Homo sapiens: one gene and its partners. The protein of the gene in region 1 purifies or fractionates together with the protein of each later gene. This does not show direct contact. Each region holds a gene or a part of one and is shown in the gene's direction. Other genes may lie near its edges. The genes, in order: ZNF491, MUC7 and BPIFA2.

What was found.
Region 2: the proteins of ZNF491 (region 1) and MUC7 purify together in Homo sapiens (affinity purification with mass spectrometry; 2 studies listed by BioGRID and IntAct, with this or other methods). This does not show direct contact.
Region 3: the proteins of ZNF491 (region 1) and BPIFA2 purify together in Homo sapiens (affinity purification with mass spectrometry; 2 studies listed by BioGRID and IntAct, with this or other methods). This does not show direct contact.

Annotation. Positions count from the first base shown.
Region 1 is NC_000019.10:11,793,663-11,801,627, forward strand, and holds the start of ZNF491 (zinc finger protein 491), read left to right. Parts: upstream 1-4,860; 5' UTR 4,861-5,065; intron 5,066-7,965. UniProt on the Homo sapiens protein: May be involved in transcriptional regulation.
Region 2 is NC_000004.12:70,475,193-70,482,314, forward strand, and holds part of MUC7 (mucin-7 precursor), read left to right. Parts: intron 1-5,606; coding exon 5,607-6,686; 3' UTR 6,687-7,122. UniProt on the Homo sapiens protein: May function in a protective capacity by promoting the clearance of bacteria in the oral cavity and aiding in mastication, speech, and swallowing. Binds P.aeruginosa pili.
Region 3 is NC_000020.11:33,178,090-33,181,965, forward strand, and holds the end of BPIFA2 (BPI fold-containing family A member 2 precursor), read left to right. Parts: intron 1-57; coding exon 58-139; intron 140-1,514; coding exon 1,515-1,578; intron 1,579-2,430; coding exon 2,431-2,471; 3' UTR 2,472-2,508; intron 2,509-3,134; 3' UTR 3,135-3,323; downstream 3,324-3,876. UniProt on the Homo sapiens protein: Has strong antibacterial activity against P.aeruginosa.

The DNA of each region.
Region 1 (7,965 bases):
TTAATTTCTCCCATTCTTCGGGTTATTTGTTCACTTTATTGATTATTTATTTTGCTGTGCAGAAGCTTTTCCATTTACTTAAGTCACATTTGTCTATTTTGTTATTGTTGCCTGTGCTTTTGAGGTCTTAATCCGGCATTTTTTGCCTAGACCAATGTCCAGAAGAGAATTCCTTAGATTTCCTTCTAGTATTTTTATAGTTTTGGGATTTACATTTAAGTACATTTTGAATTGATTTTTGTATATGGAGAGAGATCAGGGTCCAGCTTCATTCTTCTCCGTATGGCAATCCAGTGTTCCCAGCACTGTTTATTGAAAAGGGTGTCCTTACCCCAATGTATGTTCTTGTTGACTTTGTAAAAAACCAGTTGGATGTAAATATGTGGATTTTGTTCTAGGTTCTCTATTCTGTTTCATTTATTTCTGTGTATATTTTTATACCAGTAACATGCTGATTTGATTGCAATAGCCTTGTAGTATAACTTGAAGTTAGGTAATGTGTTGCTGTCAGAGGCATTCGAACCAGAGCGACTCCATTCTGAGGGCTAGGAAAGTGAGGCTGGGAATTGCTGGGCTTCATTCCCAGAAAGTTAGGCATACCTCGCTTCTAGGTGTTTACAGTTAAAGGAACAAATTAATAATGTTTACCAAGACCCAGACTTGGTAGTGTCCAGATATCCCAATATCTGGAGAACAAAGGCATTTCTAATTTTGCTTTAAAGATAATAATATCAATTCTTGCAAAATATAGTAATTAAGAAAATTAATCCTTTATCATGGACCCTTATAGCAGAGCACATCTGCCCATATATACAAGCATCATTGTACCTAGGGTGGATGCGTTCCTCCTCTTACTTACAGAAACATCCAACTCTTTCTGGGGAGTAGCTGTTCTTTCACCACTTTACTTTCTTAATAAACTTGCTTTTACTTTGCACTGCAGACTTGCCTTGAACTCTTTCTTGCAGGAAATTCGAAAACCCTCTCTTGGGGTCTGGATTGGGACCCCTGTCCTGTAACATTGCCTCCAACTTTGTTCTTTTTGTTTAGGATTGCTTTGGTTATTCGGGCACTTTTTTGGTTCTATATGAATTTTAGGATTGTTTTTCCTAATTATGTGAAAACTAACATTGGTATTTTGATAAGAATTGCATTGACTCTGTAGATTGCTTTGGGAAGTATAGTCATTTTAATGATATTAATTCTTTCTGAATAATTAATGAAATTAATTCTTCTGATATTAGTTCTTTCCATAAGCATGAAATGTTTTTTCCATTTGTTTGTGTCATCTGTAATTCTTTAATCAGTGTTTTATAGATTTTTTCTTTTTGTAGAGGCCTTTCACCTCCTTGGTGCAATATATTCCCATGTGGGGTGGGGTGTTATTTGGTAGCTCTCGTAAGTGGTATTGCTTTCTCGATTTGGTTCTCAGCTAGATTGTTGTTGCTGTATAGAAACACTGCTGACTTTTGTACACTGACTTTGTATCCTGAAACTCCTGAATTAATTTAACTAATCTAAGAGATTTTTGGTGGAGTCTTAAGCGTTTCTAGATGTAAGATTATATATCACTGAACAGGAATAATTTGACTTCCTCTTTTCCAATTTGCATGTCTTTTATTTCTTTCTCTTGCCTGATTGCTCTGGCCAAGACTTCCTATACTAGGGTTGAATAAGAGTGGTGAAAGTAGGCATCCTTAATCTTGTTCTAGTTTTTATCATTCAACTATTTCCCCATTCAGTATGATGTTGGCTGTGTGTTTATCATGTGTGGCTTTTATTATTTTGAGATATGTTCATTCTGTACCTAGTTTTTTGAGCTTTTATCATGAAGGATGCTGAATTTTATCAAGTGTGTTTTCTAAATCTATTGAGATGATCATATGGTTTTTATTCTTCATTCTGTTTTTGTGATGTGTTACATATATTAACTTGTGTGTGTTGGACCATTTTTGCATTCCTGGTATAAAACCTACTTTATCATGCTGTATTATCTTTTTAATGTGCGGTTGGATTCAGTTTGCTAGTGTTTTGTTGGGGATTTTCACATCCGTGTTCATCGGGGATATTGGTCTGTAGTTTTGTTGTTGTGTCCTTGTCTGTTTTTGGTATTAGGATGTTACTGGCCTCATAGAATGAGTTAGGGAGATTTCCCTTGTCTGTGATTTTTAGGGACAGTTTCAGGATTATTAGTATAGTTCTTTTTGTATGTTTGGTATAATTTTTTTAATGTTGATTTTTAAATTTTTATTTTTTTACTTAGAGATGGGATCTTGTTATGTTGGCCAGGGTGGTCTCAAACTCCTGGCCTCAAGCAATCCTCCTGTCTCAGGCTCCACAGTGCTATGATTACAGGCATGAGCCACCACATCTGGCCTATTTGGTACAATTTTGGTATAAATCTGTCTGGCCCAGAGCTTTCATTTTTGGGAATTTTTTTATTGCTGATTCAATATTGCTACTTATTATTGGTCTATTCAGGATATCTGTTTCTTCTTGGTTCAATCCTGGGAGGTTATACGTTTCAAAAAAACCTATAGGTTTTCTAGGTTGTGAGCATATAGTTGTTCATAGTAGTCTCTGATGGTATTTCTGTGGTATTGGTGTAATGTCTTCTTTTTCAATTCTGGTTTTGTTCATTTGAATCTTCTTTTTTTTCTTGGTTAGTCTAGCCAGCAGTTTATTACTTTTGTTGATATTTTCAAAGAACCAACTTTTTGTTTCGTTTATCATTTGTGTTGTTTTTTAGTCTTGATTTTGTTTAATTCTGCTCTGATCTTTGTTATTTCTTTTCTGCCAACTTTGGATTTGTTTTGTTCTTGTTTTCCTAGTTCCATGGGGTACCATGTTAGGTTGTTAATTTGTTACTTTTTTGACAGAGGCATATAATTCTATAAACTTCCCTCTTAGCATGACTTTTCCTATATCCCAGAGGTTTTGATATGTTGTGTTGCCATTTTTGTTCATTTCAAACAAAATTTTTATTTTCTGTTTTTATTTCTTCTTTGACTCAGAGATCATTCAGGAGCACATTGTTTAATTTCCATGTATTTATACAGTTTTCAAAGTTCCTCTTGGTATTGATTTTTAGTTTTATTCAGCAGTCTGAGAAGATGCTTGAAATGATTTTGACTTTAAAATTTGTCGAGACTAGTTTTGTGGCCTAACATATGGTCTACCTTGGAGAATGTTTCACGTACTGATGAGAAGAATGTATATTCTGCAGTTGTTGGGTTCTGTAAACGTCTGTTAGCTCCATTTGGTCCAAAGTCCAACTTAAGTCCAATTTTTTTGTTGATTGTCTGTCTTGATGATATATCTACTACTGTGTGTGAGGTGCTGAAGTCCCATACTATTATTGTATTGCTATCTATATCTTTCTTTAGGTCTAGAAATATTTGCTTTATTAATTTGGCCTCTCCAATGTTGGATGCATATATATTTAGTATTACTATATTATCTTGCTGAATTGATTCTGTTATCAGTATCTCATGATCTTCTTTGTCTTTTTGTACTGTTTTTTATTTAAAGTCTATTTTATCTGATACAACTATCACAACTCTTGCTGAAGCACAGTGGCGAGATCATAGGTCACTGAAGCTTCAAACTCCTGGGCTCAAGATCTTCCCACCTCAGCCTCCCGAGTAGCTGGGACTACAGGTTCAGGACACCACGCACTGCTAATTTTTAAATTTTTAGTACAGACGAGGTGTGGCTCCGTTTTCCAGGATGATGAACTCCTGGGTTCAAGCAGTCCTCCCGCTTCAGCCTCCAAAAGGGTTGGGATTATAGGCGTGAGCCCCCGCACCCTGCCTGCAAGTCTTTTAATTCACTTCAATTATCTTAGAATTTTCCTTCCCCACTTTATACATACGTACAGTGGAACTGAGGGTGTTTGTCTCAGGTAACCGATCAATGAAGTGAATAACCTGTAGGGGGCAGCAGAGCCTAAGGCCAGTGACACCCTGCTGAGGCCAGTCTGGAGCCGGCAAAGGGAGGGAAAGGGAGCTCCCCTGGGTGTTTCCCGGGCAGCCTGCCCTCTACTGCAGGTGGCCTCCAGCTGCTCAGAACAGCTGCGGAAGGAATGTGGATCCTGAGAAGCTACAGAGCCCTGGAAAGCAGGAGACTCACGTGCAGGTGCACTTTGTGTAGGGGGGTTGGGGGGAGGTTCTGTCCTTACTGGGGCTGTACCTAGAGCCTAGGGACGTTTTGCGGGGGCAGTGTTTGGTTTTTACGTGCAAAGGGTCCCGGCGACAGACTGTAATTTGTACATACAAAGATAATCTGTGAAGATCAGGCTCAGTAAGATTTGTCTGACATGTCACCTGGAGAAAGGGTTTGTGAAGGTAATAGTTTACTTAGGTTAGAAGCTTAAACTGACCCCAGGTGAGAACTTCTGCTGGTGAAAATGAAGTCTAGGGGGAGGAAGCGGTTCCATATTCAGGGGTGGGACGGGGGGAGTGTGAGGAAGTCTCATCCCCAATTCCCGCCCTGTAGAGGACACCTGCCTCTCCCTCCTGGTGCAGTCTTGCCTGGCCTGGCCTGGCCTGGATTTCCTTCCTGCTATGAGGCAAAGGAATGACTCCATTGAACACCGAGTCTGGAATTCCCAGCACACATTTCTGAAAGATCGAGGAAGCTAACAGTGCCCCTTCTAACAATAAGTAGCAAGTTTGGCTGAAATGCAGATAGCCAACGACCAGGGCGCAGGGAGTGAGCTTAGCCTTAGAAAGGCTGTAGCTAGGATTAATCAGCCGGGCTCTGCAGGGCTCCGTTACCCAGGGCTTACCCTGTCACTCAGGGCTGAGGGGCGGAGCCTGGAACCCCATCCAATCAGGGGCCCTGGGACGGGGCCCTGCCAACTGTCAATCCGGGGAAGCAGAAGGCCGCACTCAGAGTCTCTGCACTCCTTTGTTGCTGGGGTCCGTTGCGTTCTGCATCCAGTCCTTGCTGCTCCGAGAGGCCCCAGGTGCCTCCGCCACGGCTCCTGTGACGCTGTCACCTGCGCTGTGACCTGCTCCGGAGTCATAAAGAGGACGCCGGGACACCAAGAAGCAGGGAAATGGTAAAGTGCCCGGCCTAGCGTCCAGATACGTGGAAGAGGGGCTGGGTGGAACCAACAGGATCCTGCTGTGGCGGGACCCAGGCCTCCGCTCGGGCGACCCCGGCGATTGGGACCCGCGTCCCCCATGGCGTGGCTTGGCCCTCGGTCCGCTCGGCCGCCAGGTGGGGCTGGGCCCGCAGCTGGGACCCCGGGCGTCCTGTCCCGTCCCTACGCGGCGACTGCGGCCCCGGCCCCGGAGTCCTCTCTGGGCAGCTCCGCGCCCGCAGCCCGGCGTCTTCCCAGATTGTGCGGGGGCCACGGGAGGGTCATGGGGGGTCGGATGTGTCCCGCCTTTCTTCTGCTAAAAATTAAACTGAGGCTCTGTTAACAGTTAAAGAGTTTGTTGGAGCAACAGCGATTCCGAGTGAGAAACACCCGGTCATGGCTTGTGATTGAAGAAAAGGCTTTTATAAGTTGCATGAGGAGGCAAACAGGATTAAATACTTGATTAGTTACAGTGATGCTGTCGCCGTATGTGGACTTGTCAACCTGAAATAAAAGAATCAGATTCCAGTTTTTTAAAGTTTACTCAAGCAAGAAGCTGGGAATGGCCCATTTGGGAAAACACAGGATCCACGGAAATGGGCTCAGTGTTTCAAATTTAAAAGTTTAAGTTCTTGCTTATATAGGCAAGAAATTTAACAGGATTACAACGTTTTTTATACAAGGCTAGTTTGTGAGGCACAACAATTTAATCAGAGTTTGGCCCGCCCCCCTCCCCCCGCCCCCATAGAGCTTTTTTTTTTTTTTCTTTACATTTGGGTTTCATTTCCTTTCCAATTTAAAAGAGTATATTTAACATTCCAGCGTAAGGCAAGGTGATGCCAGCGTGGACAACATGGCGAGACCCCGTCTGTACAAAATATTTTAAAAAATTAGTCGGGTATGGCCGGGCGCGGTGGCTCACGTCTACAATCCCAGCACTTTGGGAGGCCGAGGCGGGCGGATGACGAGGTCAGGAATTCGAGACCATCCTGGCCAACATGGTGAAACCCCGACTCTACCAAAAATACAAAAATTAGCTGGGCGTGGTGGCACGTGCCTGTAATCCGGCTACTCGGGAGGCTGAGGCAAGACAATCGCTTGAACGCAGGAGGCGGAGGTTGCGTGAGCCGAGATGGTGCCACTGCACTCCAGCCTGGCGACAGAGCGAGACTCTGTTAAAAAAAAAAAAAATTAGTCAGGTATGATGGCCGCTTCTGTAGTTAGTCTGGAGGCTGAGGCAGGAGAATTGCTTGAGCCCAGGAGGTGAAGGCTGCATCAACGACAGTATTGAATTTACAGCTAATAGGCAAGGTGAGGGAGAGGATGGAAGTTGGTTTAGTGTCAAGAATTAGGGAAGAGATTGTCAAACGTAGGGAAAAGGGACTTGATTGGATATCAGGTTTGGGGGAATTTTCTCTAAACTCCCTTAGAAGGGTTTTTGCTACCACAGGGCTCTGCAGGAAAAGGCCAAAGTCTACTCAAGAAGAGGGGGGCTCTGAGGAGCCTGACTAGTTTGATCAAAGAGGGAGTTTTTGGGACCCCTCTCCCAGCCTAGTTCTTCCCAGGTATGACAGTAAATCCCTAAATTTCTGGTTTTCTCCTCACATTCAAAAACACCAACTTCCCCTCGCCAATTGACATCCTTATCAATTATGTGTTTCCCATGCTACATTTGAAACAGCTGCCATATTTTATCATTTTTCCACAGACAAATGAATAGCACTATTTAAAAATGTTATCAACACCTCTGAAAATAAGGAAAACTTTTTTTTTTTTTTTTTTTTTGAGACAGTCTCACTGTGTCTGTTGCCCAGGCTGGAGTGCAATGGTGCTATCTTGGCTCACTGCAACCTCGGCCTCCTGGGTTCAAGCGATTCCCCTGCCTCAGCCTCCCAAGTAGCTGGGATTACAGGCATGTGCCGACATGCCCGGCAGATTTTTGTATTTTTAGTAGAGACACGGGAAAGAAAACATTTTTTAAAAATTTTAGTCCAGGCACAGTGACTCACTCCTGTAATCCCAGCACTTTCAGAGGCCCAGGTGGGAGGATTGCTTGAGCCTAGGAGTTCAAGACCAGAGTGGGCAGGGCAACATAGCAAGATCTCATCTCTACTGAAAACAACCAAACAAAATAGCTGGGCATGGTGTCATATTCCTGTAGTCTCAGCTACTATACTCGGGAGACTAAGGCGGGAGGATCGCTTGAGCCCCGAAGATCCAAGGCTGCAGTGAGCCTTGAGGGCACCACTGCACTCCAGCCTGGGAGACAGGGTGAAAATTTTCCTCAAAAAAACAAAAACTTTAGGGCTTGGCATGCTGGCTTACACCTGTAATCCCAGCACTTTGGCAGGCCGAGGTGGGAGGATCACTTGAGTCCAGAAGTTTAAGACCAGCTCAGCAACATAGAGAGACCCCGTCTCTATTAAATAAATAAATAAAATTTTAAAAAGAAAAAAATTATATTTTGTTTATGAATATTTTTTATGAGAGGAAACTATTCAGTAACTACCCAAAATGACATTGGGTAAAACTCCATGGCTGATTCTTGACATTGATCATCTTTTCATGTGTTTGTTGGCCATTTGTGTATGTCTGGGAGAAATGTCATTAAAATCCATTGCTTGGCTGGATGTGGTGGCTCATGCCTATAATCTCAGCACTTTGGGAGGCTGAGGCGGGTGGATCATGAGGTCAGGAGTTCAAGACCAGCCTGGCCAACATAGTGAAACCCTGTCTTTACTAAAAATACAAAAATTAGCTGGGCATGGTGGTGCATGCCTATAGTCCCAGCTACTCAGGAGGCTGAGGCAGGAGAATTGCTTGAACCTGGGAGGCGGAGGTTGCAGTGAACCAAGATCGCGCCATTGCCCATATTT
Region 2 (7,122 bases), on another chromosome or scaffold:
TGCTCGAACCTGGGAGGCAGAGTTTGCAGTGAGCCGAGATTGCATCACTGCACTACAGCCTGGGTGACAGAGCAAGATTTTGTCTCAAAAGAAAAAAAAAGAAAGAAATGAACAAAAACGTTCTAGTTTGGGGCATGTTACATTTGAAATGGCTATTAGACTTCCACATCAAGATATCAAGAAAACAGTGGATATATGTTGTCTGGAGTTCAGAAAGAAATCTAGGGGTAAAGTCTATATTTAAAACATACTTGAAGCCATGAAACCTTACAACATTTTCACCTAGGGAGAAAATGTAGGAAGTTTAGATATGGATAGAGAAAATGGAGGACCCACAAGAGGGGACAGGAAAGGATGGCTTCCAAAACCAAGAGAAGACTACAAAGTGGACCTTCTATCTTTAAGAAATTTAGGGTGTACTGGCAAAGGAAGATTAAAATTAATAATGATATAATGTGATTACAAGGTGATACATGCTGTAATAATAACCATATTTTTCTCTCATGCTATGTACCTGCAAGTATTTATTAAATTTTATTTTGACAAAATTTCAAATAAGAATCAAGAAGTGGAATGTACTTTTTTATTGAATGAGGATGGATAGCCTCAGAATATTACGCCAGTAGAGTAGAGAGAGAGAGGGCAGAAGAACTGATGAAGTGGACGGAATTTACTCTTGGATATTCTCATATTTCTCACTTACCTTATAATATCCCCCAGAAAACAATCAGGCTTTTTCCCGGACCCTAATGCTGATTTCTGTGACTAGAAGAGTGTTCAAGCTGGGCTCAGAAGATGTGGGCTTAAACTCATCTCTAATGTTTACCATCCAGATGAATCTTGAGCAATTTAGAATCTATTTATAGGGCCCCAATTTCCCTATGTGTAAAATAATAACAACACTATATGCTTCACAGGGCTGCTGAAGGGTAAATGAGAATTTATAAATTATAAACTATAGTGTAGATATAAAAATTATGACAAGATTATTGTAATCTCAATTTACATACTAGTTGATAAGGCTTTAAGTTCTGAATATGCACAGTGATGTTAACTTTTTAATAAGTAAAGTTTTAATAAGGAATCCCTGGCTACCAACACCTCTATATTGAAAGAAATAATTTTCCAATCAACACAAGTCATGTTATTGTGAAATGATGAATCTGGGTTGTTCTTTTGAAGTGGCCTTTCATCATAACTCCCTCAAATCCAGACACCTAAAGAATCCTTTCTTCCAAGTGCTTAGAATAAATAAAACTCTTCAAGCTGCCCAAATCTCAAAAAAGTGCCTGGTGAGAGAAAGAGTTTCCAAAGAACTTGAATATGAGAAGGTAGCACAGAAATACCTTGACCTGATCCTTAGAAAATACAGGAATGTGAGGTCAGGAGTTCGAGACCAGCCTGGCCAACATGGTGAAACATCGTCTCTACTAAAAATACAAAAATTAGCTGGGCGTGGTGGCCCACACCTGTAATTGCAGCTACTTGGGAGGCTGATGGAGGAGAATCACTTGAACTTGGGAGGCAGAGGTTGCAGTGAGCCAAGATCGTGCCACTGCACTTCAGCCTGGGTGACAGAGCGAGACTCCGTCTCAAAAAAAATAAAAAGAAAAGAAAATACAGGAATGTACCGGAGATTAGCATTAACCCACAGCCAGAAAAGGTCAGTCCTGGAGCTCTAGCAACAACCTGCTTTTGTGGAGTGATTTCAGGGAGCAGATAGTCTGGCTTCTCTCTTCCAGATGTCCCAAAGAAAGACTTGAAGGGATGTATTCTGGAGTCAGATGAAGAGCTCTGTCAACTATAGCATTATTTAGCATAATGCTTTCATTCTCTTTAAAAAAGGATCACAGATTTTCAAATGGTCATAAAAATAAGCTGGTAGCAAATGAAGAAATGAATTGTGCTTTCTAATTTCAATTAAATGTAATCTTGGGCCGGGTGCCGTGGCTCACACCTGTAATTCCAGCACTTTCAGAGGCCGCGGCGGGAAGATCACCTGAGGTCAGGAGTTCAAGACCAGCCTGGCCAACATGGTGAAACCCCCATCTCTACTAAGAATACAAAAATTAGCCAGGCATGCAGTACACACCTGTAATTCCAGCTTCTAGGGAGGCTGAGGCAGGAGAATCCCTTGAACCCAGGAGACGTAGGTTGCAGTGAGCTGAGATCATGCCACTGCACTCCAACTGGGTGACAGAGTGAGACTCTGTCTCAAAATACAAAAGTAAAAAATGTAATCTTGGCCTTTCTGTCTTCTAATTCTCTCCCTTTCTGACTAATTTTCTCCTCCTCTTCCTTCCTCAGAGAATTTGGCATTCCTCTAGTTATTTTAGGAGTCTTCTGCTTTCTCATACCCTCCTTTCTTGCTGCAAGTGCCATGTGTCTCTCCTTCTCCTTCCCTTGACTCCAGCCTACTCTATCCTTGTTCCTCATGTCTTCTCCCTCTTCTCTGCTCTCAAAAGTACAGTTTGCAAATGGAGAAACATTCTCCTAAAAGTTACTTAGTCTGAGACTCAGTTTTCCCATCCATATAATGAAGATAATAACCGTACCCACCTTATGATATTACTAAGAAATTAAATAAATTTGTATTTGTAAACCACTCAGAATAGGGCCTAACATAAAGTGTTACATGAAGACTTTTTTAATAAAAATAAATAATGAATGTGAACAGGCAGGCAGGGTTGCTATCTTTAATACACCCTCCCTGGCATATCTATATTTATTATAAGGACCTCCATACTTCAGTCACCTAAACTCAAACTTTAGAGGCATGCATTTTCAACTCCTTCCTCTCTCAGACTTCTCTAAATCCAACTCTAGTCTACAATTTCTGTTATAACCACCTGTAACTGCCAATCATAATAACTAATCAATATATTAAGTAAATCAAACAAACTGGTCATTTGATACATGTTCCAGGCCAAGCTAACATTAAAATTAATAGGATTTTAATCAATTTGCCTTCATATAAAAATGTGGTAGGTATTATTTTGGTCACCTAAAGTAAAATAGCTGAAACTATTTTACATATGAATAAACACTTTTAAATGTTAATACTTTATTCAATAACAAATTAGTTATTGTTATCATTTCCATGCATTTACTCATTCAATTAATAGCTAATGAGTACCTGCCATATGCCAGGCATAGTTTTAGGTATTGGACTTACAGAGGTGAATCAAAGAGGGGCCTTCGTGAGGCTCATGTGATTAAGGGAATGAACCACATAACTATTTCAAAGCAAATAAAATTAGACTTTGGATCTGGAATTTAATTTAATCCAAATCATTTTATAAATGAATAAGCCGACATCCAGGCACATTAAGTGACTTGACCAAAGTCACTCAGCTATTCAGTGGCAGACACAGGACAGAGCCAAACCTCCACTGCTGGTCTGTTGCAGCATGTTTCATACATGTTCCTATAAGATCTGGACATTCTTTGCAACATCCTCAGAGACCATCTGGAAAGGGAAAGACCGAGATCATGGAATGTGAGGCCCTCAATCCTGCTTCAGTCAGAGCAGGTCCTTAATTATGTGGATTGCATATTCAATCTCCAGGGAAAGATCTGTTTGAACAATATGACCTGTTCTATTTTATATGAGAAAACAACTACCCCTGTAATGGAAAGGATCTCCTCAGAGATTCCTGGAGTCAGTGTTACCGATTCTGAAAACCTATGCCCTTTTAAGAGAGATTTATGGAAAAATACCAAAGTCATGTGAGTATCAGAAGCCATTATGTTAGCTATTGGTTGTTCTCAGTTGTGAATTAAAATTTCCTGGACAATTTAATTTTCTAAACAAATAATACTTTCTTGTATTGATGGATGTTGTGGAGAATGTCCAGATCTTAGAGGAACATATTTGAAACACACTGCAACAGACCAGCAGTGGAGGTTTTAGTCTGTCCTATGTCTGGCATTGAATAATTGAATGACTTTGGGCAAGTCACTTAATATGCCTGGATCTCAGTTTATTCATTTATGAAATGATTCGGATTAAATTAAATTCCAGATCCAAAATCTAATTCTATGACCTCTTTGCTTTGAAATAGTTATGTGGTTCATTCCCTCAATCACATGAGCCTCACGATGGTCCCTGTTTCATTCACCTCTGAAAGCCCAGTACCTAGAAGCTATTTTTGAGGTTGGATATATTAGTCTCTGAGGAAGTTATCTTAGTTAAACAACTCAGCTAGTCTCTCAGAAGTTGTCACTTCATCTGCACTAAACTTTGTGTCCAAAGAAAGCTTTATAACTTGCGACTGGAATGATTTACCCATTTGGTCATCTAAAAAGGGCTTCTGTGAACATCATTAGGAAGAAAACGTAACCTATCCTTGTTTGGGATGTTCTCATTTATCCTGTTATATTTCTTTTCTCCAATTTAATATAACTGATCACTAAAAAATGTAGTATGAGATTGAATACAGGGAAGAGGGATATAAAAGGCATGAAGTATGTTTACAGATAAGAAACTGAAACAGTGATGGTACTCTAACTCAAATAATGTCAGCAATGGCTAAAGGAAATAAAAATATCTTGCAAAATGATGACCCACATGGCATAGAAGTTATTTTCAAATTTTGAAAGACTTCTGGATCTTCTGTAAATCTGCCAAAACAAAATTAGGACCAAAGGATGGAAATCTTCATGAAGAAAATTCTACTCAGTTAAGAATGAAAATCCCAAAAAACAAACCTACATTCAGTGTCAAGAACTCTCTACCAGGCGGCCTTAGGAATTACAGTAGTGAGTTCCTAATCAGAAGAGGTTAGATGCATAGACTAGAAAGCCTTTCAGCAGGTGTATTGATAAAAGATCAAGTATCAGATGTACAGTTGGACTGGATCAGTGTTCTTTTCAGATGTAAACACCTTTCAGAAATCATGAAAACCATTGGTGCTCTATCCAGACAAAATGCATAAACATGCAAATTTTCTCTAAAAATCAGATGACTCATGAACCCCCGAATCATGAATTCTATAATTCTAATTTTTTAAACAATAAAGTTAAAAGGTAATGACCAAAGTTGTTTCTCCAATTTATAAAGGCTAAAAACTGTTTCCTGAAATATGGAGAACATGAAGCCGGGGTGGGATATTTTGTTTGTTGGGGCTTTGTTGTTGTTTGGCTGTTTCGTATTTTGATGATGGTAGATATGAGGGGTGTAATCTAGAAAGGGCTCCTGGATCTCAGTTGAATGTCTTTGACTAAAGTTTTGTGAACAGGCTGAGCAAGCAGGAAGCTTTTGTGATGGGACCTCAGGCAGTAACTTGACCATTTTCCACCAGAGGAAGAAGAGAGGAACTGTAAGCACAAAAGTTCGTATCCAGCTAAGCATTCAAGCTAGAACCCACAGGAATATATTCATCCCAGCTATCTAGAGAGTAGACATTTGACAAAAGAAAACTCTCTAGTAGCAATTCTTTCTTGAAACTTGGTGAAATTAGGAAGATAATCACTTGACTCAATAATGTACTCTGGTTTCTAATCCCAGCATTCCACAAATACCGCTCATCTCATGGTCAGCAGTGATCACCTGATTGATAAATGGATACTTTTTTCATTTCTTACATTTTCTTTCTTTTCTGCAGTTCAGTGAAGGTCGAGAAAGGGATCATGAACTACGTCACAGAAGGCATCATCACCAATCACCCAAATCTCACTTTGAATTACCACATTATCCTGGACTGCTAGCTCACCAGAAGCCGTTCATTAGAAAGTCCTATAAATGTCTGCACAAACGCTGTAGGCCTAAGCTTCCACCTTCACCTAATAACCCCCCCAAATTCCCAAATCCTCACCAGCCACCTAAACATCCAGATAAAAATAGCAGTGTGGTCAACCCTACCTTAGTGGCTACAACCCAAATTCCATCTGTGACTTTCCCATCAGCTTCCACCAAAATTACTACCCTTCCAAATGTGACTTTTCTTCCCCAGAATGCCACCACCATATCTTCAAGAGAAAATGTTAACACAAGCTCTTCTGTAGCTACATTAGCACCAGTGAATTCCCCAGCTCCACAAGACACCACAGCTGCCCCACCCACACCTTCTGCAACTACACCAGCTCCACCATCTTCCTCAGCTCCACCAGAGACCACAGCTGCCCCACCCACACCTTCTGCAACTACACAAGCTCCACCATCTTCCTCAGCTCCACCAGAGACCACAGCTGCCCCACCCACACCTCCTGCAACTACACCAGCTCCACCATCTTCCTCAGCTCCACCAGAGACCACAGCTGCCCCACCCACACCTTCTGCAACTACACCAGCTCCACTATCTTCCTCAGCTCCACCAGAGACCACAGCTGTCCCACCCACACCTTCTGCAACTACCCTAGACCCATCATCCGCCTCAGCTCCACCAGAGACCACAGCTGCCCCACCCACACCTTCTGCAACTACACCAGCTCCACCGTCTTCCCCAGCTCCACAAGAGACCACAGCTGCCCCAATTACCACACCTAATTCTTCCCCAACTACTCTTGCACCTGACACTTCTGAAACTTCAGCTGCACCCACACACCAGACTACTACTTCGGTCACTACTCAAACTACTACTACTAAACAACCAACTTCAGCTCCTGGCCAAAATAAAATTTCTCGATTTCTTTTATATATGAAGAATCTACTAAACAGAATTATTGACGACATGGTGGAGCAATAGTATATTGTATGTTGTAAAGTGTTCTGTCATTTACAAGATGTGATTCATGAGTGCAGAACTACCACCTTTCTTTTAGCACCAATCCCAACATGAAATTATATTACTCAGATTTAAAGCACTATCATTAATCTTTCAATCTAATTATTCACCACCACAAGACCTATTAACAAGACAAAATGCCTCTATCCCACAAGCCAGATGCAGGTCTGGGGTTCAAAATAACTCTTTGGATCCTACAGAGATAGCCTACTGAGGGCAAAGAAAGTCCTTAGATAAAGAGAGAATATTGTATGGGCCATCAACCATTTACTTTTCCCTGAATGTTAGAAACTACAAAACCACTACCTTGTACCCCCATCAAAATCCCACCTGAACCATCTAATCCTATAAACATAAAGGGGTAAAATTGGAACTCTCCAGATGAACAAAGACATCT
Region 3 (3,876 bases), on another chromosome or scaffold:
AGTTCTCCCATCTCTTGCCCACTTGACCAGACTTTAATAGTTCCCTGTGTTTTCCAGACACAGCCAAATCATCAACAAGTTCGTGAATAGCGTGATCAACACGCTGAAAAGCACTGTATCCTCCCTGCTGCAGAAGGAGGTGAGTCTCCCACTCCTTGGAGCCCAGATCCAGGCCTGGTGGGGGCAGGTGGGGGAATTTGCAGGCCTGGCTGTATCCTCTGAGCACTTTTCCTTCGGAGGTGAAAGCTTCTCCTTAGGAGGTCAGCTGGAGCTTCCTCCTCTACTAATCAGCCTGGTGGGTAGCAGGGTAGAGCAGAGGCCTGACATTAGCTGAAATTGCCAGGTCCCAAACTTGAGCCTCTCACCATATCCACGCACTACCAATATGCTTTTGTAGCTAACATCTTCAACACAATTTTACTTAAATATGTTTCTTTAGAAGCATTTATTTTTAAAAATAAAACTTTATATCCCTATCATAAATAGAAAATTAATATCACATATCATACAATCAATGGACTTATAAAATAGTTTTAATTTTTTTTCCATCTGTGCATCATCCAAAACCATAGGTACCATGTGCAGGATTACTAGGCCCAAAGTTGCAGAGATTCTAAATCAGTCATTCTGGAAGCAGACCCAGGAATGTGGGTTTATAAAAGAAAAATCCTCCGGATGGCTCTGTGACCCACTGAACCGGAGTTTAGTTATATTCCAAAAGCGATCCTCCACCAGCTTCAGCCTCAGCTGGGTGCTTGATAGGAATGCGGAATCTCAGGCCACACCCCAGACCTGCTGAATTGCAATCTGCGGGGAACTGTGTACACACAGGAGCAAGAGATACTCCGCTCTACAACCTCAGGGCAAATGCCTCAGGGCACCATTTGACCCTTTAAAATTCCAGGGTTCCAAAGTTCAACATGGGAATGTTAACAATCTAGAATGTAGATTTTTGAGGTCCTAGAATTCTAGTGTTCTAAGGTGTTAGGATTCTAACACCCTAGGGTTTCCAGATTTAAGACTGCTGGGATCCCATTGTTCTAAAATCCTAAGGTTCAGGCCAGGCGCGGTGGCTTATGCCTGTAATCCCAGCTCTTTTGAAGGTCAAGGTGGGCAGATCACTTGAGGTCAGGAGTTCAAGACCAGCCTGGCTAACATGGTGAAACCCTGTCTCTACTGAAAATACAAAAATTAGCCAGGCATGGTGGCATGTGCCTGTGAACCCAGTTTCTTGAGAGGCTGAGGCAGGAGAATCACTTGAATCTGGGAGGCGGAGGTTGCAGTGAGCAGAAATCGTACCACTGTACTCCAGCCTGGGCAAGACAGTGAGATTCTGTCTCAGAAAAAAAAAAAAAAATACAATAAAACAAAATAAAATCCTAAGGTTCAAAGATTCTAAGATCCCTAGAAATGAGCTCATCTGTGGGTGGCAAGCAATTTGTTCTCAGCTGAGAAGAATGATCTGTTCTTCCTCCTACTCCTGACCCTCCTCTTCCTCCTTTCTCCGCTGTCAGATATGTCCACTGATCCGCATCTTCATCCACTCCCTGGATGTGAATGTCATTCAGCAGGTCGTCGGTAAGTCAATGGGGAAGTGGGGACCTTCTGAGGCAGGCATGGAGCTCTGTGCCCACCCCATAAGCAGTTCTGGTCAGGGGACCCTGGAGAAGCAGAAGGACCCACTGTCCTAAGCAAATTGGGAGCCATGGCTTCCCCTCCACAGGCACCCGGGGGCTCCCTTTGGCTTTTGGGTCTACAGGCATGGCTGGGGTTGCTGGGGAGAAATGGAGTAAGTAAAGCTGTCAAGACCCTGGAGGTGACCCTTCTATGAAAATAGCCACAAGTCAGCCAGGCGCAGTGGCTCACACTTGTAATCCTAGCACTTTGCGAGGCTGAGGTGGGCAGACCACTTGAGTTCAGGAGTTTGAGACCAGCCTGGGTGACACGGTGAAACCCCATCTCTACTAAAAAATACAAAATTAGCCAGGCGTGGTGGCATCCACCTGGAGTCCCAGCTACTCGGGAGGCTGAGGCGGGAGGATTGCTTGAGCCTAGGAGGCGGACATCGCAGGTAGCCGACATCATGCCACTGCACTCCGGCCTGGGTGACAGAGTGAGACCGCAATCTCAAAAAAAGAAAAAAAAAAAGAAGAAGAAGAAAGGAAATAGCCACAAGTCCAGTCCCTTAGGCAGTCACTTTGTGCTCTGTACACACTATCTCACTGGATCCTTGCAACAACCCTGTGGGGAAGGTACTGTCATTGTACCCACTTTACAGATGAACAAACTGAAGCTCAGAGAGGTGGAGCAACATCCCTGGGGTCCCACAACTGTCAGGTTACCGGCTGGAGAGCGGCATCTTTTGGAGTCTGGTCTCTATTCAATTCCAGTGGCAGAGACTAAGGCCTGCTATTGATTTTGTTTCTTCAGATAATCCTCAGCACAAAACCCAGCTGCAAACCCTCATCTGAAGAGGACGAATGAGGAGGACCACTGTGGTGCATGCTGGTGAGGAGCCAGTCTCTGTGCCCCAATGCACAGGGGCCTATGGTGAAGTAAAAGTCAAGCGTGGCTTCCCTTATTTTTGTGTTAGAAGACTGTGCCTTCATCTCAGTCATAGATTGAGCCCTGGCCCCCATCCCAGGCTAGGCCCTGATTCTGGTCACACTCTGAACACTGAGCCTTAATCACTGAACTCTGATTCTGGCCCCAGACTGAGCCTGGATCCTAGTCACAGACTGAGCTTTGATGCCAGTTATTGACTGAGCCTTAGTCTTGGTCACAGAATGAGCCCCAACCTTGGTCTCAAATGGATATCCATGATTCTGATCACATATTGGGCCCTGAACCTGGCTCCAGTAGTGGCCTCAATCAATCTTTTCACATCTACCATTGTTCTGAAGGAGGGTGAGGGGAATGAAGATGAGTCAGTGCCAGGTGCTAATGAAAGACCCCAAACCACAGGTGCCAGTTTCTTCTTCCCAGGACTTAAACCGCATGGGGTATTGTGGGAAAGAGCTGGGACACTGGAGCCAGGTCAACTTGGGTCCCATCAAGTGCCCAGTGGATGACTGACAGCTGGGTGTAAGGGCAGCCTAGCAGCAAATGTCCTAACCCCCTTGGTCTCATTCCAGATTGGTTCCCAGTGGCTTGCCCCACCCCCTTATAGCATCTCCCTCCAGGAAGCTGCTGCCACCACCTAACCAGCGTGAAAGCCTGAGTCCCACCAGAAGGACCTTCCCAGATACCCCTTCTCCTCACAGTCAGAACAGCAGCCTCTACACATGTTGTCCTGCCCCTGGCAATAAAGGCCCATTTCTGCACCCTTCTGTGTGGCTTGTTGCATTCCCTCCATTTGGGATTTGTTGGTGGGAACTGGGGAGGGAGGTTGGGGGCTGCAACTAGGGTGGGAGAGACCTGGATCCAGAGCTAGAAGGCTCAGTGGGAATATCCAGCCACATCTCCTGGTTCTATAAAGGGGGCCACTGAGACAGAGAGGGCAACAAACTAGCCCAAGTCACACAGCCAATCTGTGGCAATAGCAGACCCCTGATCTATCCATTCATGCATTCAACAGGTATGTAGTGAACACCTACTCTGTGCCAGACAGGCAATGGGAACTGGAAAGTCACATTCTGGGGACAGCCCCACCCAGCACTTTCCTCCATTCCTCTCCAGGGGCCCTGAGGATTCTTGGAGAATCAGGGGACACCTAGCCTGACTGGAGTCAGGAGTATGAGACAGAGTGATGCAGGGTCAGAGGCCTGTGGCCCCATCTCCACCTGCCCTGTTAGCCCTGCTGCCCTCTAGGGGTCCCACTGGAGCAGAGATGTCTTTTCCAGGTGGTGCTGAGAGTTCTCAGTCTGTAGCACCCTC